Linked DNA regions of Homo sapiens. The protein of the gene in region 1 interacts with the protein of each later gene in a biochemical or structural test. Each region holds a gene or a part of one and is shown in the gene's direction. Other genes may lie near its edges.

Region 1 (4,078 bases):
ACCAGGGGGGGCTCCGAGGCTCCAAGGGAACGGTGTCCAGGGAGTCAGGGCGGCCAGGTCCTGGGGTGCCTAGAGCGTCTCCAGCTGGGAACTAGACCGTCGCCTGCCTGGACCCTGTGTCCCTCAGCTGGAGTTCAGGGACCAGCACAGTGTCCCCACAGAGGGGCTCTGGGAACACCAGCTAGATGGGGCAGTGGGGCCCTGAGCACATCCCGCTCAAAAGCCCCATAATGAGAGGCCGGGGAAGCGGAACGCTGTCACCCCTGCATCTAATTCTGCCTCTGTGAGTCTTCATGACAACCTCCCAATAGTACATCCTTCAGGCCCCTCAAAATCCATGGCAGCAGGGCCTGGGGACCCCCTGAACAGGCGCCAGTGTCACAGAACCTGGGGCAGAAGTAGCCATGCAAGGGTGGAGGCCAAGGAGGGAACAGGTGGAGGGGTGTGGGGTCACCCAGGGCCAAAGGGGGAACAGGTGGAGGGGTGTGGGGTCACCCAGGGCCAAAGGGGGAACAGGTGGAGGGGTGTGGAGTCCCCCAGGGCAGTTCCTGAGACTCTTGCTGAGGCTGCCACCAGGCCAGCACGTGCCCCAGAAAACGGAGTTTGTGACGAAAACTGGAGTGGACTTGGACCCACCTTGTCGGGTAGGAGGCCCCTTGGGGCAGGATAGGGACCTGTGGGATGTGTGCAGAGCCCAAACCTCGCTGCGGGTGGGAGGCTGGGCTGCGCCGCCCCTGGCACCCTGGCCTCCACACTCGCCTTGGCTCTGGATGCCCAGCTCTGTGGCCCAGGATGCAGGAGGGTTGGGGTAGGGGGACAGGGACGCTTTCTGCACAGCCACAGGCCCTGTCTGTCTACACCGGCTGCGGCTGCCCTGCTGACTCACACTCAGACGGGTTCACGACAGGTGCACCTCGGTTCTGGCATATCTGGACTTGAGAATGTTAAATAAAGGATGGAAAATTCCTTCCAAATCCATTTTCTTGTGTATATTTCTGTTCCTGCAGCTTCTCCACGGATGGAGATTGTCTTTGGGAATAACACAGGGTCGTGCAGTCCGCCCGGCGGCGTTTTCGGGCGAGGGTCTGGTGCTGGGGAGCGAGCGCGGAGCGAGGTGTCTCTTTAAATACGCTCTGCAGTGTGACGGCGGCCGCCCGGCTGGAAGAGCCATCCCCACCCTGCGGCAGGAGCCCGCCCGCCGCCATCGCCCGCCCCGGTCCCCATGGTTACGCGCCTGCCTCCGGCCCCGGGTCCCCGCTGTCGCCGCGGGAGGTGCGCGCAGAGGCGGCGGCGCTGCTGGCCGGGCTGGGCCGCTCGTGCGCGGGGCTGTGACTCACCGGCCGGCGCCGCAGCCCCGCAATCTGTTGATAACTCGGTCCCAGCTCGGCCGCTGCCCTCGCGAATGGAGAGCGGGTCCCCGGCGGGGGGAGCGCAGCGCGTCTGTCTCCGGGAGCGCGGCCCGGCCGCCCCGGCAGCCGCTTCGGCCACAGCAGGTGGGAAGGACGCGCGGGTCTGGGCGGCGGGAGGGACGCGCGGGGCCGCGGCTCGGCAGAAAAGCTCGCGCCCCGAGGTGACACTGGCCGCGAGGAAAGCAGCTCCGAGTAACTTTCGGCTCCGCTGGGGCGGGAGGCGCCACGGATAATCCAGGGCCCCCGCCCCGCGCGCCCGGCCCGGAGCTCGAGCCACATCCAGGCAGAGCAGGCGCCGCGGCCGGGCTGGGGCGGGCGGGTCACTCGGTGCCGGTTCCCGGTGCAAACCCCCCGGCGCGCCTCTGGCTTTGTGCAGCCCGAGATGGTTGAGTTTGGCTCCGGAGCCGGGAGTGGGGCGCAGATTGATTTTTAAATATGGAGAAGGAGACGCATCTGCCGCTGGCGCGTTCGGTCCGAGCCCCCCACCGGTCCCCACCGGCACCGCCTCCGCCAGCCCCAGGCGCAGCCCCCAGGCCGCCCGCGGAGGGGAGGGAGCGACAGGGGCCGCGGCTGCTCCCTGGCGGGGTCGGGGCTGCGAGCTGCCCTCCGCGGGGACCCTCCGCCCGCCCCGCTGACCGCCGCTGTCTTCACAGATGGGAGCAGCTCCCGGACTGCGCCCGCCCCGCCGCGGTCACCCTGAGGCCAGGGGCCCGGGAGCGCGACCTCCTGGCCGCCGTCTGGGACTTTGACCTTCCAGAGGCCATGGAGGCTGGCGGGGAGCAGGGCGCCACCTGATCGCCTCCCCCTGGACGCCTCCTCCAGCGGCGCTCACGCTTCCGCAACTTTGCAGCGCTCATGGTGAGTACGGGGGTCCCGGGGGTCCTGCAGCTGGGGGCTAGGCCGCTGCGGGGGGGCGGCCACCCGTATGGGGACTCCCAGGCTGGAAAAGTTGTGGAATGGCGAGCTGGTGACCGGGCTTCCGGGCTCAGTGCCGGGGTGGGAGGCTCTGTGGAGTGGGGGCCGGGGACAGGCCGCGTGTCTGGGCACCTCTGCTCCCCGCGTGCTGGGTGCTGATCATACTAATGAGTTGCAGGCATATGGCAATGTGGAATCATTTAATCAATGGAGGCGACGTCCCTCCCGCAAAGCTGGCATCCGTGCCCTGTGAAAACCTGGTCTGTGCCTGGGCTGGGGTCCCTGCCACCCCAAGCCCCTCCACCCTGGTCACCGGCCTCCTCCACGCCACCCTGCCGGCCCCTTCCCATTAGAAAGTTGATGAAAGGCAGTGCGGACAGACGTAGGTGGGCTTCAGCAGTGGAGGCTGTGGCGGAGAGAAGGCGGCCGCGCACACGGCAGGCACGGGAAGGGTGTTTCAGCGGGAAGGGGCTCGTGGCTGGCAGCTGGCTGGATCGGCTAGCCGAGCCCATCGTGGGTCCCTCCCTGAGGCACCAGCAAGCTTTTGCTGCAGTTGCTGAATGTCTGGGTTCCGGAAGGGCTGACAGCTGAGTGAACAATGCATTGTGTGTGCTGGTAAGGGACAGCTGACAGGCGGTGAGGACCCAGGGCACGTGCAGAGAATGCCAATGGCCTCTAGAATGTGCGGCCGCCACAGACGCCGGCTGGCGTGCTTCGGAGCAGACCCAGTGTTCGCTGCATAAGGAGCCATCGGTCTGAGTCACTTGCTCATTTTCTTCTTGTTCCGTTCGAAATGTCCAAGCAAGAGAGATGCCTTTGCCAACATTCAGTATCGTCTTCCAGTGGCTGCTTCACCTCTGAGGCTGGCTGAGGTCTCCGCACTTACCTTTCAGACACCTGACAAGGTTGCGTCTCCAGCACCAGCAGCACCTCAGGGGGCAGCAGGCCAGCCCCAGGGCTCCTGCCTGCCCCCAGGCTCCCACCAGCCTCAGGAACCATCGCTGTTGCCCCGCAGGTACCACACCCAGCGCAGCCCCAGGCCTCCCAGTTGGCAGGATCTGTGGCTTTTCAGCCTCAAATTGAGACCCTTATTTGCAAAATGGAAAACTGTCATTGACAGAGGACAGTGAACGGAGAAGGGCTTCTGAAGGTGGGGGTGCTGCCGCAGCCCGGGGGTCCCTCTCATCCCCTTCCTCGCCTCCTCCTCTCTAACCCTTGGCCCTTCTGCGAACAACTGTGCGGGGGCCTCCCCAATCCAAGAAGGGCACCACCCCTCGCAGGCTGAGCCTGTTCGTGCACTCTCCTCTCAGCTCCTGGCTCCTGGTGGAGCTTCCTGCTACCACCTCCTCGGCCCGGGGCCACCCGGTCCCAGCCGGCCTGGCAGCCCAGAGCTCCTGCTCACCCAAGACTGTGAAAGCCTGCTGAGCTCGATCTGCCTGGAGAGTGTGGCATTTCAGCAGCTCACTGTTTTTATTCACAACAAGTAACATTTGCACCTGAGAAAATCTCTGAAAGTGTGAGGAGTTGCCCTCCCGTGCTGCATCAGTCTGGTGCAGCATTTTTCTGCATGTGTCTCCAAGTTCACAGCGTAGTGTGACAGCGTAATTCACAGCACGTGTCTCCAAGTTCACAGCGTAGATACCTGGGCAGGCTCACCCCATGGCCATGGGGTCTTGAGAAGGAAGCCTGGAGGCCGTGGCCAGGGCAGGGTGGCCCTGACTCTGCCTGCCCCACTGCTGTGCTCTGGGGGGCTC
Region 2 (3,500 bases), on another chromosome or scaffold:
CAATGTGAAATAAGCATGTCATGGAGAATGGGGTACCCATCCCCTCAAGCATTTATCTTTTGAGTTATAAACAATCCATCTACACCGTTTAAGTTTGTATTTATTTTTTTTGGAGCCAGAGTCTCGCTCTGTTGCCCAGGGAATACAGTGGTACGATCTCGGCTCACTGCAACCTCCGCCTCCCGGGTTTAAGCAATTCTCCTGGCTCAGCCTCCCAAGGAGCTGGGATTACAGGCCCCCACCACCATGCCTGGCTAATTTTTGTATTTATAGTAGAGACACGGTTTCACTATGTTGTCCAGGCTGGTCTTGAACTCCTGACCTCAGGAGATCTGCCTACCTCGGCCTTCCAAAAGTGCTGGAATTACAGGTGTGAGCTACTGCACCTGGCCTAAGTTATTTTAAAATGGACAATTAAGTTATTATTGGCTATAGTCACCCTGTTGTGTTATCAAGCTCACAGACTTTTCCTCCGTGGAAGGGAATCTGCTCAGTTCTGCCCCAGCAGCACTTGGCCATGGGGTTTGGGAGGTCAGGGAGCCTGGAAACTTTGTCGGAGTTTGACTATTGCAGAAATGCCTCCCAGCCCACTGCCCAGGCATCAGGTCCCCACCCACTCTGGCCTCCTTCAGTGCCCAAGCTTGGTCCAGTCCTAACCCCTTCCAAATTAACCCCCTCAGGAGTGTCTCCTCCATCATGTACCCTAGCCTGATCCCCTGAATGGGCTTTTCTGACCCTGAGTAGACCAGCCTCTGTGGCCAGATACACACACTCGCATACACACAGGACTCAACTCCAGCTTCCCTACATCACCAAAGTCCAGATCTTCCAAAGCTGTGACTTTCTTCCTGTACCCACAACAGGCTCTGCTGCTATAACAAACAAACCCAACATTTTTTATTGTTGTTGTTTTTGAGACAGGGTCTAGCTCTGTTGCCCAGATTGGAGTGCAGTGGTACAATCATAGCTCACTACAGCCTCCAACTCCTGGGCTCAAGTGATCCTCCTGCCTCAGCCTCTCTAGTAGCTGGGACCACAGGTGTGCACCACCACACCTGGCTGATTAAGAAAAAAAAAAAAGACTGGGGAGATGAGGTCTTGCTATGTTGCCCAGGCTAGTCTCAAACTCCTGGCCTCAAGCAATTCTCCTGCCTCAGCCTCCCAAAGTGCTGGGATTATAGGTGTGAGCCACTGTGCCTGACCCAAAATCAACAACTTAGTGCGTTTGCACTACAGAAGTTTACTTTTCACCCACAGAGTCCTCTAGGGGGTCAGTAGACTTTCTAGGGTGGCTTGATGTCCATACGAGGTCTCAGCATTTCAGACTCCTCCATCTCTATGTGAAGCTTCAGGGTTCCCTATGGAAGAGGAAGAGAGCTTGGAAAATTGTGCATCTCCTCTTAGAACAGCACCTGTCCTCAATGCTCATTGGGCAGAACTAGGTACACTGCTCCTCCCTAAGGATGCTGGGAAATGTAGTCTAATGTGTGTCCAGGAAAGAGGGAAGACCTAGAAATATTGGTGAGTGCGAGTAATGCCTGCTACAATCCCAGATCACCTGCCATGGAGCCAAAGGTCTATCCCAGACTCCATCTAATCCCTGCAGAGTTGGAAGGGGGCACGTTCAGAGCTCCAAACAGGGCAGGATGCAAGAGAAGACCTGCCCAGGAGCAGGGCTGGGCAGCAACCCGCTGAGGGTAGAATCCGACAGGCTGCCCAGGCCAGCTGCAGTGTGTTTTCTGGCAAGGAGGAACGGGGAAGTGGAGGATTTTGGTTAGGGCTCGCTGGGCACCCACAAAAGCTGAGAGTGAATCTCCAAAAATGACTTCCTCTGGAAGATGAAGGGCCTCCGTGGAGCCCAGTTGGTTTTCTATCTTTTTTTTTTTTTTTTTGAGACAGAGTTTCGCTCTTGTTGCCCAGGCTGGAGTGCAATGGCGTGATCTTGGCTCACTGCAACCTCCGCCTCCTGGGTTCAAGCAATTCTCCTGCCTCAGCCTCCCAAGAAGCTGGGATTACAGGCATGTACCACCACGCCCGGCTAATTTTGTATTTTTTTTAGTAGAGACAGGCCAGGCTTGGTGGCTTGGCTGGGCACGGTGGCTCACACCTGTAATCCCAGCACTTTGGGAGGCCGAGGCAGGCAGGTCACCTGAGGTCAGGAGTTCAAGTAGAGATGGGGTTTCACCATGTTGGTCAAGCTAGTCGCAAACTCCTGACCTCAGGTGATCCACCTGCCTCTGCCTTCCAAAGTGCTGGGATTACAGGCATGAGCCACTGCGCCAGACTGGTTGGTTTTCAATCACCAGCCCTCCAGTTCTCGCCTGCGCTTTCTGCCTGCCCCAGTTTTTCCTCCTTGAAGTGGCTGATATTTAATAGAAAATCCATTAGTGTCCCGTGATGATACCTCATGCTTAGATGTAGGCTGAGAACATCTGGGTAATAACTGACACCGAAACCGCACTGTAGCACGGGCCCCAGGAGGGAGGAACTATTTTTTCCTCTTTCTTACATAAAACATCTCTGCAGCCAGCCATGTTCTCCTTTGAATTGAGGTTGCTGCTGACTTTGATTTCCAAACTGGCAACCTTCCCCAGCACGGCGCGTGCGTGGGGAGGGGGCGGCTGGTGCTGCCAGCCTGGCCCACTCACAGGGAGGGAAACAGTGGTGAGCTGGGGCCTGCAGGAAGTGCAATGCAAGGCTGCTTTTTGATTCAGTCCCATCCACATTCTCTGAGTGCCTAATATGTGCCAGGCGCTGTGCTTGGGGCTGGACAAGCATGAGACCCCGGATCATCACACCTGGGTGGGGGAGACAGACGGTTACACAGACTCATGGTGCATCTGTGCTAGGATTCAGACGTGTACAGAACGTGGCCTCTGACTGGAAACCCTCGAAGCTTCCCGCTACTTCTCCTCCCCTTTTGGAATCATCTAGAAAGCGGGTGGATATACAGTTCCAGAGTTCAAGAGCGAGCTCTCGGCTGAAGATCGAGGTCTGAGAGTCACTGTCTGGGGTTCTTCGCCAGAGCTGGGTCGTGGAGAGCCTCAAGTGCAATAGTGAACTGCAGTGGCAAAGGGCAGTGGTACAGAAACAGCACGTGTAGACGGCTCCAGACTACAGAAGGGAGGAGAATGAGCAGCTTTCAGGATCAAAGGAGGATTGTCTTTTATTTATTTATTTATGGAGACAGGGTCTTGATCTGTCACCCAGGCTGGAGCTCAGTGGTGTGATCATGGCTTACTGCAGCCTTGATTTCCCGGGCACAAGAGATCCTCCTACCTCGGCCTCCCAAGTATCTGGTAGCTGGGAATACAAGCGTGCACCACCATATCTGGCTAACTTTTTACTTTTTCTTTTCTTTCTTTTTTTTCTTTTGAGATGGAGTCTGTCTCTGTCACCCAGGCTGGAGTGCAGTGGCGCGATCTCGGCTTACTGCAAGCTCCGCCTCCCGGGTTCACACCATTCTCCTGCCTCAGCCTCCCGAGTAGCTGGGACTACAG
Region 3 (3,500 bases), on another chromosome or scaffold:
CTGCCTGGTGGCAGAGGCTGTACCATCCACCACCTGCACTTTGCCTTTGCACCCTGGGGAACCCGTTGGAAATGAGCACTATGAAAAGGTGGTGGCCGACCCTCTGCCAGTGTGTGCTGCCTGGAGGCTTCTAAGCCTGGGGCATCTGGAGAGGTGCTTTGGAGCAGGGTTGTGCAGCTCTCATGGATGGTTAATAAGTGCCGGCTGGAGAGGCTCTTTGAGGGGTTTTGTTCTGTGATTCCAAGTACTCACTTTGAAAACTGACCACAGGAGACTGAGGTCAGACTAGAGGGCGATTGGAAGCCGCTGGTGTGGTGTGCACAGGCCAGGCCGCACGTTTGTGATGTGAGCACTGTCTGAAAATGCTTTTGTTGTAAATGAAACCGAGGCCTTTGATGAGTCCGTGGGGGAAGCTGCGGCCGGCTCTGAGCTTCTTAGGATTTGACAAGGCCACTCGTTGCACCTTCCTCAGAGGAAGAGAAACAAAGGCTTTGCTCCTTTACTCCTTTATGGCCTGGCTCGATGGAACCTCAAGGCTCCATCTGCTTATGACCTGTACTGGGAACTCCGTGACCTGTTACAGCAAATTCACCTCTTCAGAAAGCCAGGCACAGCGAAAGCCTTTGCCGTGGTGAAGTGTCCGCAGTGGGCTATAGGAACAGGAGAAGGGCCAGCCACCCACCCCGCAGGGCAGACGTCCGCGTTGGGAACCCAGTCTCTGGTGTGCGAAGCTGTCGGAAGTATTTCTGAAGAGTTCAAGGTCCTCGGAGAAAGCACAGCTGCTGGCTGACCTGGGCTGGTTCTGGAGGAAGCGAGTGGTGGTCTGATTTCAGGACTCACCCATGACAGCTCTGGCGGGCAGTGAGAGGCTCCAGAGAAGATGACCCACGCCCCGGTGATATTAGAAAGAGGCCAGTTCGCAGTGTCAGCTTTGGAGGCTGGGGCGGTTCCACTGTTTAGTTTCCTAAGGGACAGTGTGGCTCCTTTTCTTTGGAGGGGTTCCCTGGTTGCTTTCTGTGGCCCTAGGCAGCCACCGTCCTTTCCAGAAGCCTTTTGCAGCGCCCGCAGCGTGACGAGTGAGTCAAGCCTGGACAGTGACAGTTGGCTGCTGCGGTGTTTAGTACTGACCCCGGTCGCAGTGGCAGGCGACCCGTGCTGTGTTCACTGGGACCTGGACCACTCTTTCCAGAGCTTTCCAGAAAATAGGCTTTCCTCCTGGCTCACTCGTCTGCCACCTTTGTCTTTGGTGAGAACATGAGCACGGAAGTGGGGTACAGTAATGGGGAGATGTGTGCGCAGTTTTCCAGTATTTTCCTGCCTTGCAGTCCAGCCTCACCTTTTCCAAATCGGAGACCTGCCTTCCTTTTTCTCTGCCCTCCTGCCCCCACAGAGGTTCTGGAGGGAGACTGAGAAACCATCTGGAACTCCTGGCCCTGGGCACGCTACGGACATTAGAAGTGTGATTGTATGACACGCCAACGCGTCCCAGGCTGTTTTCCCGTTTCCCCAGGAGACTGCATCTCTGTGGCCTGGAGCGCCGGGCACCCGCGGCCTGTGGTGGGCGGGACGCCTGCATTCCGGCCATGCCTGCACCGGCTCGAGAGGGGCCCTTTGTGCCCGCCGTGCTTGCGAGGCCACTCAGTGCTGCCATCCCAGGGAGTATCTCCTTCAAGCCAGGACGGGTCTCTTGCCCTGAGGGGTAGATTCTGGGGGTTTGTGTCTGGAATGTCTGATGGTCTATTCTGCCAACGTGGCTGCGATTCGCCTGTTTTCCTGGTTGCACTGTGTTTGTGACCCATTTCCCACGTCGCAGCCTGTGGGGTAGGAGACACGAGGTTTACGGAGAGGCGAAGCTTTGCCCTTGGGCTGCCCGCTGCTCTTCTGTGGCTGTGATGGTGCTGGGGCCGGCTCCGGGTGGGGCGCTCCTTGATGCTCACTGCACACGGGCGCTGCGCCCAGCACTTTCCAGAAATCCAAGCCCTGCAGCGGAGCGTGTCTTACTTAGGCGACCTCATTGTGTTTCCCAGTAATGGCTTTCCTTGAAGGGCGCTCCAGCCCGTTTAGTCCTCTCGGTCTCTGGTGGCCCTGCAGGCTCCAGCCACATCCTCTGCTCAGGTGCTCTGGTGTCAGGTCTGCGGGGCCAGGATGCCCACGGCCTGTTATGTCCATTAGATTTTGAGATGGGGTCTTGCTCTGCTGCCCGGGCTGGAGGGCCGTGGCACTATCATAGCTCACTGCAATCTTGAACTCCTGGGCTCAAGCCATCCTCCAGCCTCAGCCTTCAGAGCAGTGGGTACAGTGCACACCACCATGCCTGGCTAATTTTTAAATTTTTTGTAGAGCCGGGGCCTTACTATGTTTCCCAGGCTGGTCTGGAACTCCCGGGCTCAAGCCGTCCTCCCACCTTGGCCTTCTAAAGCGCTGGGATGACGGGCAGGAGTCACCGCCTGTGGCCTCATTTGCTCTTGGTGGTCACGATGGTTGGCGCTAACCTCTCTCACTTTTTCACCCAGGTCACGGCCTCCCCACATCCTTTGGCTGAAGCCCACAGTCCTCATCCATGAAGCCTCACCCACCATGTTTTATGGGACGCACTTCATCATGTCCCCGCCCACCAAGAGCAAACTGAAGCGGCAGAGCCAGCTGTTGTCCAGCATGCTGTCCCGGACGCTGAGCTACAAGTACCGGGACCTGGACTCCACCTTCTCCAGCCTGGGCGCCAGCGATGACCCCGCCGAGCTCTCCACCCAGCTGTCGGCCCCTGGTGTCCTGAAGGTGTTTGGGGACAGTGTCTGCACAGGAACCCACTACAAGAGCGTCCTGGCCACCGGCACCTCCAGCGCCCGTGAGCTGGTGAAGGAGGCGCTGGAGCGGTACGCCCTGGACCCCAGGCAGGCCGGCCAGTACGTGCTGTGTGACGTGGTGGGCCAAGCCGGCGATGCTGGGCAGCGGTGGCAGGCCCGGTGCTTTCGGGTGTTTGGGGACAGTGAGAAGCCCCTCTTGATCCAGGAATTATGGAAACCCCGAGAAGGTTTATCCCGGAGGTTTGAGCTGAGGAAGAGGTCGGACGTGGAGGAGCTGGCAGCCAAGGAGGTGGACACCATCACGGCAGGTGAGGGGGGCCACAGGTTCAGGAAGAGCCGTGGGTCTGAGCGCTGAGAAGGCCAGCCGAGGTAGGCGGAGAAGGAGTGGTGCAGGGGACATGCGTGGGGCGGGCTCGCTCTGCAGGAGGCAGTCGGAGCCCGTGTCCTGGATGTTTGAAGCCTTCCTCTTTTGTTCTCTGAGACAGGGTCTTGCTCTGTCACCCAGGCTGGAGTGCAGTGGTGCAACCACAGCTCACTGCAGCCTCCTGGGCTCAAGCGATCCTCCCACCTCAGCCTCCTGAGTAGCTAGGACTATAGGTGCACCACCACACCCAGCTAATTTTTTACTTTTTGTAGAGACAGGAGTCTCGCTGTGATACCCAGGATAGTCTTGACCTCCTGCCCTCAAGCGATCCT
Region 4 (3,500 bases), on another chromosome or scaffold:
GAAGGGCCTCCATTTAGGCCACAGAACGCCGTTTTGTTGTTGTTGTTGTTGTTGTTGTTTTCTGAGACGGAGTTTCGCTCTTTTTGCCCAGGCTGCAGTGCAATGGCACATTCTCGGCTCACTGCAACCTCCACCTCCCAGGTTCAAGCAATTCTCCTGCCTCAGCCTCCCAAGTAGCTGGGATTACAGGTGCCCACCCCCATGCCCAGCTAATTTTTTTTTTTTTTTTTTTTTTTTTAGTAGAGATGGGGTTTCACCATGTTGGCCAGGCTGGTCTCGAACTCCTGACCTCAGGTGATCCACCCGCCTCCGCCTCCCAAAGTGCTGGGATTACAAGCATGCGCCACCACGCCCAGCTTTCTGAAAAAGAAAAAAATATTTGAGGTTGTTTATAATTTTCTAGTTTTTAATAATTGAGGGGCTGCTTTCTTATATTATCCCTTTTATCTCCCCTACAACCTCTCCTGTGTATGTACCTTCTGTTTACGTTCCCCACGTAGAACTGGACAGCTCCTCAGACCTCATCTCTTCCCCAGGGAAGAAGGGGGCCGCTCATCCTGACCCCAGCAAGACCTCTGTAGACACAGGGCAAGTCAGTCGGCCAGAGAATCCCAGCCAGCCTGCATCGCCCAGGGTCACCAAGTGCAAGGCCAGGTCTCCAGTCAGGCTCCCCCATGAGGGCAGCCCCTCCCCGGGGGAGAAAGCAGCGGCTCCCCCTGACTACAGCAAGACTCGATCAGCATCGGAAACCAGCACACCCCACAATACCAGGAGGGTGGCTGCCCTCAGGGGAGCGGGACCTGGAGCAGAGGGAATGACACCAGCTGGTGCTGTCCTGCCAGGAGACCCCCTCACATCCCAGGAGCAGAGACAGGGAGCTCCAGGTAACCACAGTAAGGCTCTGGAAATGACAGGAATCCATGCACCTGAAAGCTCCCAGGAGCCTTCCCTGCTGGAGGGAGCAGATTCTGTGTCCTCAAGGGCACCGCAGGCCAGCCTCTCCATGCTGCCATCCACTGACAACACCAAAGAAGCATGTGGCCATGTCTCGGGGCACTGCTGCCCAGGGGGGAGTAGAGAGAGCCCTGTGACGGACATTGACAGCTTCATCAAGGAGCTGGATGCTTCTGCAGCAAGGTCTCCGTCTTCCCAGACGGGGGACAGTGGCTCTCAGGAGGGCAGTGCTCAGGGCCACCCACCAGCCGGGGCTGGAGGTGGGAGCTCCTGCCGTGCCGAACCAGTCCCGGGGGGCCAGACCTCCTCCCCGAGGAGGGCCTGGGCTGCTGGTGCCCCCGCCTACCCACAATGGGCCTCCCAGCCTTCGGTTTTAGATTCAATTAATCCCGACAAACATTTTACTGTGAACAAAAACTTTCTGAGCAACTACTCTAGAAATTTTAGCAGTTTTCATGAAGACAGCACCTCCCTATCAGGCCTGGGTGACAGCACGGAGCCGTCTCTGTCATCCATGTATGGCGATGCTGAGGATTCTTCTTCTGACCCTGAGTCACTCACTGAAGCCCCACGAGCTTCTGCCAGGGACGGCTGGTCCCCTCCTCGTTCCCGTGTGTCTTTGCACAAGGAAGATCCTTCGGAGTCAGAAGAGGAACAGATTGAGATTTGTTCCACACGTGGCTGCCCCAATCCACCCTCGAGTCCTGCTCATCTTCCCACCCAGGCTGCCATCTGTCCTGCCTCAGCCAAAGTTCTGTCATTAAAATACAGCACTCCGAGAGAGTCGGTGGCCAGTCCCCGTGAGAAGGCCGCCTGCTTGCCAGGCTCATACACTTCAGGCCCAGACTCTTCCCAGCCATCATCACTCTTGGAGATGAGCTCTCAGGAGCATGAAACTCATGCGGACATAAGCACTTCACAGAACCACAGGCCCTCGTGTGCAGAAGAAACCACAGAAGTCACCAGCGCTAGCTCAGCCATGGAAAACAGTCCGCTGTCTAAAGTAGCCAGGCATTTTCACAGTCCGCCCATCATTCTCAGCTCCCCCAACATGGTAAATGGCTTGGAACATGACCTGCTAGATGACGAAACCCTGAATCAATACGAAACAAGCATTAATGCAGCTGCCAGTCTGTCCTCCTTCAGTGTGGATGTCCCTAAGAATGGAGAATCTGTTTTGGAAAACCTCCACATCTCTGAAAGTCAAGACCTGGATGACTTGCTACAGAAACCAAAAATGATCGCTAGGAGGCCCATCATGGCCTGGTTTAAAGAAATAAATAAACATAACCAAGGCACACATTTGAGGAGCAAAACCGAGAAGGAACAACCTCTAATGCCTGCCAGAAGTCCCGACTCCAAGATTCAGATGGTGAGTTCAAGCCAAAAAAAGGGCGTTACTGTGCCTCATAGCCCTCCTCAGCCGAAAACAAACCTGGAAAATAAGGACCTGTCTAAGAAGAGTCCGGCAGAAATGCTTCTGACTAATGGTCAGAAGGCAAAGTGTGGTCCGAAGCTGAAGAGGCTCAGCCTCAAGGGCAAGGCCAAAGTCAACTCTGAGGCCCCTGCTGCGAATGCTGTGAAGGCTGGGGGGACGGACCACAGGAAACCCTTGATCTCACCCCAGACCTCCCACAAAACACTTTCTAAGGCAGTGTCACAGCGGCTCCATGTAGCCGACCACGAGGACCCTGACAGAAACACCACAGCTGCCCCCAGGTCCCCCCAGTGTGTGCTGGAAAGCAAGCCACCTCTTGCCACCTCTGGGCCACTGAAACCCTCAGTGTCTGACACGAGCATCAGGACATTTGTCTCGCCCCTGACCTCTCCCAAGCCTGTTCCTGAGCAAGGCATGTGGAGCAGGTTCCACATGGCTGTCCTCTCTGAACCCGACAGAGGTTGCCCAACCACCCCTAAATCTCCTAAGTGTAGAGCAGAGGGCAGGGCGCCCCGTGCTGACTCCGGGCCGGTGAGTCCGGCAGCGTCTAGGAACGGCATGTCCGTGGCAGGGAACAGACAGAGTGAGCCGCGCCTGGCCAGCCATGTGGCAGCAGACACAGCCCAACCCAGGCCGACTGGCGAAAAAGGAGGCAACATAATGGCCAGCGATCGCCTCGAAAGAACAAACCAGCTGAAAATCGTGGAGATTTCTGCTGAAGCAGTGTCAGAGACTGTATGTGGTAACAAGCCAGCTGAAAGCGACAGACGGGGAGGGTGCTTGGCCCAGGGCAACTGTCAGGAGAAGAGTGAAATCAGGCTCTATCGCCAGGTCGCAGAATCATCCACAAGTCATCCATCCTCACTCCCATCTCATGCCTCCCAGGCAGAGCAGGAAATGTCACGATCATTCAGCATGGCAAAACTGGCGTCCTCCTCCTCCTCCCTTCAAACAGCCATTAGAAAGGCAGAATACTCCCAGGGAAAATCAAGCCTGATGTCAGACTCCCGAGGGGTGCCCAGAAACAGCATTCCAGGGGGCCCCTCGGGGGAGGACCATCTCTACTTCACCCCAAGGCCAGCGACCAGGACCTACTCCATGCCAGCCC
Region 5 (3,121 bases), on another chromosome or scaffold:
CTTTTTTTAGATTGTTTTAAAACGCTCTGGTTCCACCTTGAAGCTGATAATCTTTCTGAAAAATATATGAGAAACTCAGAAAGTAGTCATTATTATAATAAATTTAATTTTCTTAGGGAAAAAGGGCAGGGTTCTGGATGGAAACCCCTTTGGAAATTCTTATTTAAACTTTTGAATGAATCTTTAATATGATTCAGGCTGAGATTATGATACCTGCCCTTGTCTTATTTCAAGAGGTTTGCTGTGAGAATTCATGTAATAACATCTGTAATGTATTTGGAATTTTTGGGAGAAATTCATTCTTTTAAATAATGGGATTATTGTATATAGTACAAATGAATACTCACAAAATTTAAGAATACATTTGACTAATAATTGAGCATCTTGTCAGTTTTTATGCAAGCATATATTGTATACCTGAGGAAGATGACAGTTCTATAATTTTTTTAAGGTAAGGTTATTTTTAAATTGCATTTTTGTTCTAACGTTTTGCAATTTATATTCTTTTTAAAATATTTCCCATAATTCATCATGCTAGCTTCTGTGTTCTTGGAATAGTTTTTGAAAAATGCAGAGATTCGAACATGAGTCCTTAATATACTAAACAGTGAAAGAATGATGATATCTCATTTCTAAAGTAAGCATGGTTCACACCACTTTGGCAATACACTGCAGTACTTTTTAAAAAATATTCTCTAGTGATAAAAGTAAAGACAGGGTACTGGCCAAGATCCTAATTCTGACTTCTGACTGTGTGATCTTCGATGAAATTTATATTTCCCTTTATCATTACTATTCTACTTGTTAAGTAAGGCTAAGTTAATATTTGTCTTCGCCTTAAATTCTGATTTGTAATTTGTAACTCTGATGTGGTAGCTGTGATATGGTGAACTGAAAAATCCTTATTAGGCTACTTTATCTGTTCTCTTTTAGTTATTTTAAAGTGTACCTGTTTCTGAAGTAATGTAGTGAATGGTGAATACTTTTCAGGAATTCTTCCAGTTTTAAAATAGCCCCAAAGATACAGTTTCAGCTGGTGGAAGGTCTGTTCTGCTCTCTTAGTCCTAATCAGAAAGTCCCTTTTATCTTATAATCCCATACTAAATCCAAACCCTTAGCAAATCCTTGCTGCCAACCAGACCACTCACAAATCAAACAAAATGTAAGCAAGCAATCCAGTACTCGGTTACACCAGAAGACTCTGATCTTTGCCCCCGAAAACTGTCCTACTTTATCCTTATACCTGAAATCACTGCATACCTGAAATCACTGCAGCCCTACTGTTTTACCCATACCATTAATTTAAAAAGGCATCTATTTCTTTATAGAAAGAAACATTCACAGTGAGGTCTTAGTTTGTGAACCTCAAAATCCAGATATTAATCCACTTTAGTTATTACTTTGTAATTGCTTCTCAGTCATTGGCTGATAATGCAATGGTGTGATAAATTTGACTTATCTCCACATACAAAAGTCGATCAGAAGGGATAGTTCTCTTCCTTTTTTTCCCCTCCTACTGGCTCTTACTGTTTTCTAATCTCCAGTGTAAATGGAATGAACACATCTATAGTTAAGGTAAATGCCACCAATCAGAAGATTGAGTGATTTACTGCTTGTAAAGCAACTGTCTTTGAATCTTATGAAATAGGTGGTGTTGCTACCACAGAAGCCAAAAAGGTCTTAAAATTGGAAATAGATGTCTTTATTGTACTTCAGCCAACAGCAAGCCAGGGGAAGGAACATACATAAATATGACAGGTCATATATGAAATTTGGCTCTCCTCCTATCAAAGTAGCCTAGGAGCTTGGAGGAAGCCTAATTAACTAAAACAGGAAAAAAGCATACTCATCTGATGTAAAAACTCATCAGCTGTAAATTACCAACATTAAACCAGAAGTCATTACCAGTTAAAATGTGTGGTTTTCATCTTATTCTTAAATAGGAGAGGTGGACAGTAGTGTAAGTAACATTGCTTTAAAGACATAAAGCTTGTCCTGGTAAACATGGTCTAAATGAGAAATGCCTCCATCTTTTCAGGTAGAACCAGATTTCAGGCATAGCTCAGCTACATCTGTATTTGAAATACAATAAAAATATTTCTTATGTCTCTGTATTCTCTTTTAAAAAGAACTGCTGACTGGCTCCTGTCTCTTCAGTAACACTGATTTTTTTTTAAAGAAGTGATATGTTGGACTCTGTTGTAGAAGAATGAGCACTAGTATTCAGCAACAAGTGCAATTTCTCCATGTTATGTTGAGCTCTGTTGGAGCCTATGGTGAGTATTTGATGTGAAAACCTTGCTGTGGGAATTTTTTATTCTTCCTTTTCCCCCCACGCCAGTTCGTTTTGGTAAGTCTTTTATTTGAACACAAGACGCATGCTTTTTTAAACCTCTAGTTTTTGAAGTAACTGTAGAAGAGAATCTTTAAAAAAAAAAATGGAGGGCAGAATGCTTGTTAGCAATCTGAAAATCAAAGCTGAACAAGCTGCTTAAAGTTTCTGATTAAGAAGTTTAAAAAGAAAAATTAATTGCTACTGCTTTCCAGGTAATTGTATTATTAGTTTCTGTATAAAAGAAACATTATTGCTGTTGTATAAATAAAATTTTCCTGTGGTACAATTAAGTATTGATTTTTCAGAAACTGTCCCTATAAATCTTTTCACATATTTCCATGTGCTGTCCAAAACAAAAATTATTGAAATGTCTAATCTGTGAGATTATATACTCCTGGTAAAATATTTTTGTATATATAAAGAAATATTTACTATTGGAAAAAAGTGTTTCATTTATAGGTAGAACTAAGGTTTAGAGATAATAATGGAGGATATCTGATTAGCGTTGATAATTTTTTTTAACTGTTTGCATTTTTTAACTTTTAGGTTTGGGGGCACATGTGAAGGTTTTGTTACATAGGTAAACACGTGTCACAGGGGTTTATTGTACATATTATTTCATCATCCAGATACTGAACCTGGTACCCAATAGTTATCTCTTCTGCTCCTCCCCCTCCTCCCACCCCCCACTCCAGTAGACCCCAGTGTCTGTTGTTTCCTTCTTTGTGTTTATAAGATACTATCATTTAGCTCCCACTTAGAAGTGAGAACATGCAGTATTTGGTT
Region 6 (3,500 bases), on another chromosome or scaffold:
TATGGATAGTGCTGCAGTGAACACATGCATGCATGTGTCTTTAATGTTTTTTTAATGCTTTGTCTAGTGCATGACACACAGTGGTCAGTAAGTGTTCATTAAATGACTGAGCAAACTGATAGATATCATAATAATATAATGGAATGTTTTTATATTTATTTATTTATGACATAGGGTCTTACTTTGTCACCGAGGCTGGAGTGCAGTGGCACGATCTTGGCTCACTGCAGCCTTGACCTCCTGAGTACAAGTGATCCTCTTGTCTCAGCCCCTCAAGTAGCTGGGACTACAGGTGTGTGTCACCACACCTGATTAATGTTTTTATTAGCCATATTTTTCATAGAGACGGGGTTTCACCATGTTGCCCAGGCTGGTCTCCAACTCCTGAGCTCAAGTTATTCACCCACCTCGGCCTCCTAAAGTGCTGGGATTACAGGCGTGAGCCACCACACCCAATGTACTTATTTATTTTTGAGACAGGGTCTTGCTCTGTCCCCCAGTCTGGAGTACAGTGGCACTATGACAGTTCACTGCAGCCTCGACCTCTTGGGCTCAGGTGGTCCTCCTGCCTCAGCTTCCTGAGTAGCTGGGACTACAGACATGCACCACCACACTTGACTAATTTTTTTTTTTTTTAATTATTTGTAGAGACGAGATCTCACTATGTTGCCCAGTCATGCCTTGGACTCCTGGGCTCAAGTGATCCTCCACCTCAGCCTCCCACAGTGCTGCGATTCCAGGCATGAGCCACTGTGCCTGCCATAATGGGATGTTTTAAATAAAGAGAAGCAGTAACATGATCTGTTTCAGCTTTCAAAAAGTGGTAAACATGGTTCTTCACTAAATACAATTTGAGAAAGAGAGAATGAGGATGGACACATTGTATTATGATGGATAGGAAACTGGCTAAGATATCAGAAACAAGGAGAAGGAGTAGATGGAACACCTCTTGGAGAGAGTCAGGTAAATGGAACAGTTCTCTAAAGATTGCTTCAAGGATCAGTATTAAGATCTTTTCAAAACAATACTAAAGAAAAACTGTACAGTAAAATATCTAGGAATTACTTTGGGGAAATAGAAAGGCAAGCTGATAGATGTTCAACTGCAGAAACATTTTGCGAAGCCATGTGACTAGCCAGAAAAGTGGTCAATGATTACATGTGATAAGTACACAATTATTTATTGAGGGAAAAATAGCCAAACTATACTTAGATGATAGGGTCAGAACTGCTGGTTTCAGAAGACTGAAAAGTAAAGTAAAACTATTTTTTAAAATTTATTTAGCATTTATTATGTGCCTACACTATGATTAGGAATCATGGACACTAGAATAAAGAATAAGAAATGATCCCCATTTTTAAGAATTTTGCAGTTCAAGCCAGGCATTGTGGCTCTTGCCTGTAATCCGAGCACTTTGGGAGATCAAGGAGGAGGACTGCTTGAGGCCAGAAGTTCAAGACCAGCCTGGGCAACATAGCAAGACTCCCATCTCTGCCAACAAAACAAAGCAAAACAAAACAAAACATTAGCTGTGTTTGGTGGTGCATGCTTGTAGTCCTAGCTACTTGGGAGGCTGAAGTGGAAGAATTGCTTGAGCCCAGGAGTTCGAGGTTGTTGTAGTCCTAGCTACTTGGGAGGCTGAGGCAGGAGAATTGCTTGAACCTAGGAGGTGAAGGTTGCAGTGACCTGAGATCGTACCACTGCATTCCAGCCTGGGCGATACAGCGAGACTCAGTCTCAAAAAAGAAAAAGTGCCAGAATGCTTGAGTTCAAATCCTTACTCTATCACTCACTCACTGTGTGACCTTGTGCAAGTCACCTCACTTCTATCTGCCCCAGTTTCCTCAGCTATAATATGAGAGTATTATTAGAATCTACTTATAGAGTTGTGAGGATTCAATGATTTTTTTTTTTTTTGAGACGGAGTTTTGTTCTTGTTGCCCAGGCTGGAGTGCAGTGGCGCAGTCTCAGCACACTGCAACCTCTGCCTCCCGGGTTCAAGCGATTCTCCCGCCTCAGCCTCCCAAGTAGCTGGGATTACAGGCGCCCGCTACCACACCTGGCTAATTTTTCTGTATTTTTAGTAGAGATGGGGTTTCACCATGTTGGCCAGGCTGGTTTCTAACTCCTGATCTCAGGTGATCCACCCATCTCGGCCTCCCAAAGTGTTGGGATTACAGGTATAAGCCACCACGCCTGTCCGATTTTTGTTTTATAAATAATTTGTAGTGACGATTCTGTACTGTCTTAAGCACTTTACCACAAAACAACTCATTTAATTCATTGAAGTGCTTTAAGGATACTGCTATGTGGGGAGTAGACTTTATGGGGCAAGAATTGAGTCATCTAGGAAGGGTAGGGTAAGCTGTGTCAGTAATTTCAGGGATATGGGGCTTCTGTTTCTCTTTTTCCCTCCTTTTATGCCTTAGTTTATAAAAAAACCCTATTACTGCAATAGTCCTTCCCCCTCCTCCAAAAAAAAAAAAAACCTGTTAGAAGCTCCCAGAAACATTTTTAACCTTGTGAGATTTCCCTAGAACTGGAAATGTTAGAAATTCCTGACCTAGGTGTAATTTTCAATTCCAATAATAGTCAATTGACACCAGTTGGGCTTTGTGTATGTACTAGGTACTATATTGGCACAGGAGGTACAAAAATGAATATAAGCTAATTACATTGTCTTCTAGGAACGAATATTGCAATAGGGTAATGAGACAATTAAACAAGTAATTTCATGTTTTCAGGCAAAGGGAAGAAGACATCCAAAGTCACGGAGATAAGCAGTAGCTGTGGGCGGGGATGATAGGGTGAAAAGCGATAGCAAATATTAAATTTTGTTTACTGTATAATGCAAAGTAGAGAATGTCCAAAGATGGCTAGAAAGGTAGATTATGGTGATTTTGAGTTTAAACTTCATCTTCTATGTTTTTTTTTTTACTTTGATTTTATCTTGGGGATATACTTAGAATTTATTTAAAAATCATTTTATCATATTTGCATAGGAAATAGTAGAAAAAGTCTACTGTAAGGAGGATACTATAACAAATTTTTTTTTTGCTTAATTAACACAAAATTGGTGCTTTGAGAAACTTTAGCCTTTTATTATTGACTAAGTTGGTGCAGAAGTAATTGTGGTTTTTGCCATTTTTTTTTTTTTTTTTGAGACGGAGTCTCGCTCTGTTGCCCAGGCTGGAGTGCAGTGGCACAATCTCGGCTCACTGCAAGCTCCGCCTCCCAGGAGATCACGCCATTCTCCTGCCTCAGCCTCCCAAGTAGCTGGGACTACAGGCGCCTGCCACTATGCCTGGCTAATTTTTTGTATTTTTAGTAGAGACATGGTTTCACCATGTTAGTCAGGATGGTTGTGATCTTCTGACTTCATGATCCACCTGCCTCGGCCTCCCAAAGTGCTAGGAGTACAGGTGTGAGCCACCGCACCTGGCCGGTTTTTGCCATTTTTTATAGCAAAAACTGCAATTACTTTTGCACCAACCTAATAA
Region 7 (3,500 bases), on another chromosome or scaffold:
TCAAGTTTTAGTTACTTCAGTTCATGACTTTAGAAACGTCAATATTCTAAAACATCATCACTAACTAAAACCAGCAGTCCCCTTTCCGCATTTTGCTGAGTCGTGAACTGTCATGCCTGTCTGGGAAAAGCTGATTGGCATTGTGTGCACTTGTGGTAACCATGGAAACATCAGACACAGTGGTGATACATGAACCAGCCCCAGTCCCACAGCTGTACTTACTGTCATAGGTCTTATTAAATAGGTATCTATGTAGTCAGAGCATGTTTCATAGAAATGGAGTGTTCATTAAACTGAAACTTCATACATTGCCTCTGGGCTTTTGGGGATAGGAGTATGATACCTCCCAACTTGAAATTCCCACAGATAGGTGAGGTCATAGTCATCGGGTGATACTTAATGAGCCCATGTTTTTCTTTCATTGGATGTAAACTATGCTCGGTGAGTGCTTTTGAGGGCTGCATTAGTGGTGCTTTAATGTACCAAGTGGGATGCAATCCACCATTCTTCTTTCATGTTCCTTTTTGTGGAACTGCTGTTGACTCTCTCTCACTCTTGAGTAAGGTACATACACTGAGGCTTCCATTGCTTGGGGCTGCCCTCAGCCCCTAGGAGACAGGCCTAGTGGAGGAGAGGCAGCCCATAAGCACAGAGGGTCTGTCTGCTGCCTGCCAGAGCACCATCCTACACACTTGCCTTGTGAACAGATGGCCAAGGAGTCTGGCTGGCCTGCCCCCACCATGGATCTGAGTGGTCCTCACCACTCAGGCAAGCATAGGCAGTTGTCTGTCCTCAAGAGAAGGACCCTAGGGGACAGAACACTCCACAGTATGTCCCTAGGGCTGGTGCGTAGAGAACATTTAGAGTTTTCCTAAAGCTCTGACTTTCTGCCACTGCCCTTCCTGAACCTCAGAGTGGGCTCTTAAGCGTTAGCTTTCAAGTGCTTTGGGGTGTTTTTCTTTGCTTGGGATGAATAAATTGTCTCATGGTTTTTAGTGCTTGCTGGTTGAAACTTGTAATGGTCCACAAAGTCTTTACAGGTTTTCCATTGCAAAAATCCATCTAGAACGATGGGATTTATATGCTTAAAAGTCAAGTCAATTTACCTAATAAAGGAAAAACGGGAATTATCTGAGCCCATCTGAAGCTCTCAAGCTCTGGGTCAGTGACATCTAAGAAAGCAGGACACCTGTATCAAGAACAGATATGACTTAGAATGAAGAATGAAACCATTGCTTTGCTTCTGTTATTTTCTTTGCACTTGATGCAAATGTTAATTGTGATCAGCTCTGAACTTAAATGTGTCCTTGTCCTGTCACTTGGACAGTTTGAGGAAAAGGCAGAGAGAGACAGGCTGGGCTGCGAGGGCCCAAGGGAGAGGGCTGGCATGGAGGCCCATACGTGCACCTTTGGCAGAGCCCCATGGCAGCTTGGGCAGGAAGGGCATCTCTAACAGTCTCCTTCCCCCTTAGATAGTGACGAGAGGCTGCGAGACTGTGGAAATGACCCTGAGGAGGAACGGGCTGGGCCAGCTTGGCTTCCATGTGAATTTTGAAGGAATTGTCGCAGATGTGGAACCTTTTGGCTTTGCCTGGAAGGCTGGCCTTCGCCAAGGGAGCCGCCTCGTGGAGATCTGCAAAGTAGCCGTGGCCACTCTGACCCACGAGCAGATGATCGACCTGCTCCGTACTTCTGTGACTGTGAAGGTGGTCATCATCCAGCCCCATGATGACGGCTCGCCCCGAAGGTAAGGCGTGGGAGGCCCAAGTAATGCTCACTCCTCCTTTGCCTCTGTAGCAGGTGGCTGTCCTCAGTGCTCCTGCAAGGTCCTCAGAAAATGCAGTCAAGTGTGTCTTTGTACAGTGTTCTGGGATGTCACTCATTTGTACAATGTTGTTGGGATGTCACTCGTTCGAGGAATTGAAAAGGAGCTTTAAAATATGTAATAGATGATAAAAAATAATTTGCTAAGCATTTTAATGGAACATTGACTACATTAAAGCTGAGCTATTCTGAACTAAGGGGAAGAGCACCTGCCTGGTTCCCCTGGACCTCTTATATCTAAGAGGAAATAATTCTGTATCACAGCTCAGCCTTGAGCACATTAAATACTTAACTATTCAGTTAGAATTTCTTCCCATAACATGAAGCCATTGATTATTTAAAAAATATTTAACAGACCAATAGTTGTAGGTATGAAAGAATGTTGGAACAGCACAGGTACTCTCTGTGGTAAATACTCCATTCTCAATTGAAGCTTGAGAGATGTTGAACTGGTTCAGGGCGTTATCATAAACTGTCAGGAGAAATAGATGAAAAGGAACGGCTAGACTTGGAAGGTTCAGAGGCGGATAGGTGGAGGGCTGGGATAAGAACGGGGTTAGAAAGCAATACTATTACATTACTAATAGAAAATAATCATGCCCAACATAAAATATTAGGCCAAAAGGAGAAAGAATGCTAATTAAGAAGGAGCCGTTTATTGAGGCTGTGGCCCACTACTTGTGTTAATGCATGACTGGTGGTAGTATCTAGAGCACCTTCCCTCTATCTTCATTCCCAAATGGAGTTCGTACAGGCAGCCTTAAGAGCTCTGGCTTTTGAGAGACAAAGTATGCTTGGAATCCAGGAATTTGCTGTGTGGCCTGGGGCAACTCACACACTCTCTCTAAGTCTCACTTACTCTCTGTAAGATGGGATTATTATATCGCCTACCTCCTATGATTTCAATGAAGATGAAATAAAGTAACACATGTAAAGCACTTAGAACCTTCTAGCATAATTGCCCCACACATTTAATTTAGAAAAATAAAACTTTAGGGGCTGGGCGCTATGGCTCACACCTGTAATCCCAGCACTTTGGGAGGTCGAGGTGGGCAGATCGCTTGAGCCCAGGAGTTTGAGAGCAGCCTGGACAACATGGCAAAACCCCATCTCTTCAAAAAATACAAAAATTAGCCAGGTGCAGTAGTGTGCACCTGTAGTCCCAGCTACTCAGAAGGGGAAGGTAGGAGGATCCCTTGAGCCTGGGAGGTCGAGGCTGCACTGAGCTGAGATCGTGCCTCTGTACGCCAGCATGGGTGGCAGAGTGAGACTGCATCTCAAATAATAATAATAAATAAAACTTTAGCATATTCATTTTAATTTCTTTCATATGAAAAAATAAATTCTGATTATCCAAAGATAGTAGGATTGTTGGGTCTACTTTCTGGACTTACTAACCTAGGTCATACTCTCTCCTTTCTCTGTTTCCTTTCTTCCTCCTTTAAGCCAGCACTCTCCATTAGCACTTTCTACAGTGATCTGTGTCTGTACCGTTCAGAGCAGTAGCCACAAACCACATGTGGCTATTACGTACATGAACTGTAGTGCAACTTAGGAAACGAATTTTTCCTTTTAATTAATTTACATTTAATTGGCCACGTGTTGCTAGTGGCTGCCATATTGGATAGATCAGCTAAACCATGATCTCCTTTTAGGAAAAAAAGCCACTTACACTG

The links.
Region 2: the proteins of ADGRA1 (region 1) and GRID2IP interact in a test that uses a peptide from one of them, tested with the Homo sapiens proteins (one large-scale study listed by IntAct).
Region 3: the proteins of ADGRA1 (region 1) and RADIL interact in a test that uses a peptide from one of them, tested with the Homo sapiens proteins (one large-scale study listed by IntAct).
Region 4: the proteins of ADGRA1 (region 1) and PDZD2 interact in a test that uses a peptide from one of them, tested with the Homo sapiens proteins (one large-scale study listed by IntAct).
Region 5: the proteins of ADGRA1 (region 1) and PALS2 interact in a test that uses a peptide from one of them, tested with the Homo sapiens proteins (one large-scale study listed by IntAct).
Region 6: the proteins of ADGRA1 (region 1) and SYNJ2BP interact in a test that uses a peptide from one of them, tested with the Homo sapiens proteins (one large-scale study listed by IntAct).
Region 7: the proteins of ADGRA1 (region 1) and SIPA1L2 interact in a test that uses a peptide from one of them, tested with the Homo sapiens proteins (one large-scale study listed by IntAct).

What each region holds. Positions count from the first base shown.
Region 1 is NC_000010.11:133,086,646-133,090,723, forward strand, and holds the start of ADGRA1 (adhesion G protein-coupled receptor A1), read left to right. Parts: upstream 1-1,278; 5' UTR 1,279-1,493; intron 1,494-2,062; 5' UTR 2,063-2,264; coding exon 2,265-2,267; intron 2,268-4,078.
Region 2 is NC_000007.14:6,544,962-6,548,461, reverse strand, and holds part of GRID2IP (delphilin), read left to right. Parts: intron 1-3,500.
Region 3 is NC_000007.14:4,877,217-4,880,716, reverse strand, and holds part of RADIL (ras-associating and dilute domain-containing protein), read left to right. Parts: intron 1-2,513; 5' UTR 2,514-2,577; coding exon 2,578-3,112; intron 3,113-3,500. UniProt on the Homo sapiens protein: Downstream effector of Rap required for cell adhesion and migration of neural crest precursors during development.
Region 4 is NC_000005.10:32,086,631-32,090,130, forward strand, and holds part of PDZD2 (PDZ domain-containing protein 2), read left to right. Parts: intron 1-500; coding exon 501-3,500.
Region 5 is NC_000007.14:24,691,573-24,694,693, forward strand, and holds the end of PALS2 (protein PALS2), read left to right. Parts: 3' UTR 1-2,621; downstream 2,622-3,121.
Region 6 is NC_000014.9:70,407,091-70,410,590, reverse strand, and holds part of SYNJ2BP (synaptojanin-2-binding protein), read left to right. Parts: intron 1-3,500. UniProt on the Homo sapiens protein: Regulates endocytosis of activin type 2 receptor kinases through the Ral/RALBP1-dependent pathway and may be involved in suppression of activin-induced signal transduction.
Region 7 is NC_000001.11:232,459,134-232,462,633, reverse strand, and holds part of SIPA1L2 (signal-induced proliferation-associated 1-like protein 2), read left to right. Parts: intron 1-1,472; coding exon 1,473-1,747; intron 1,748-3,500.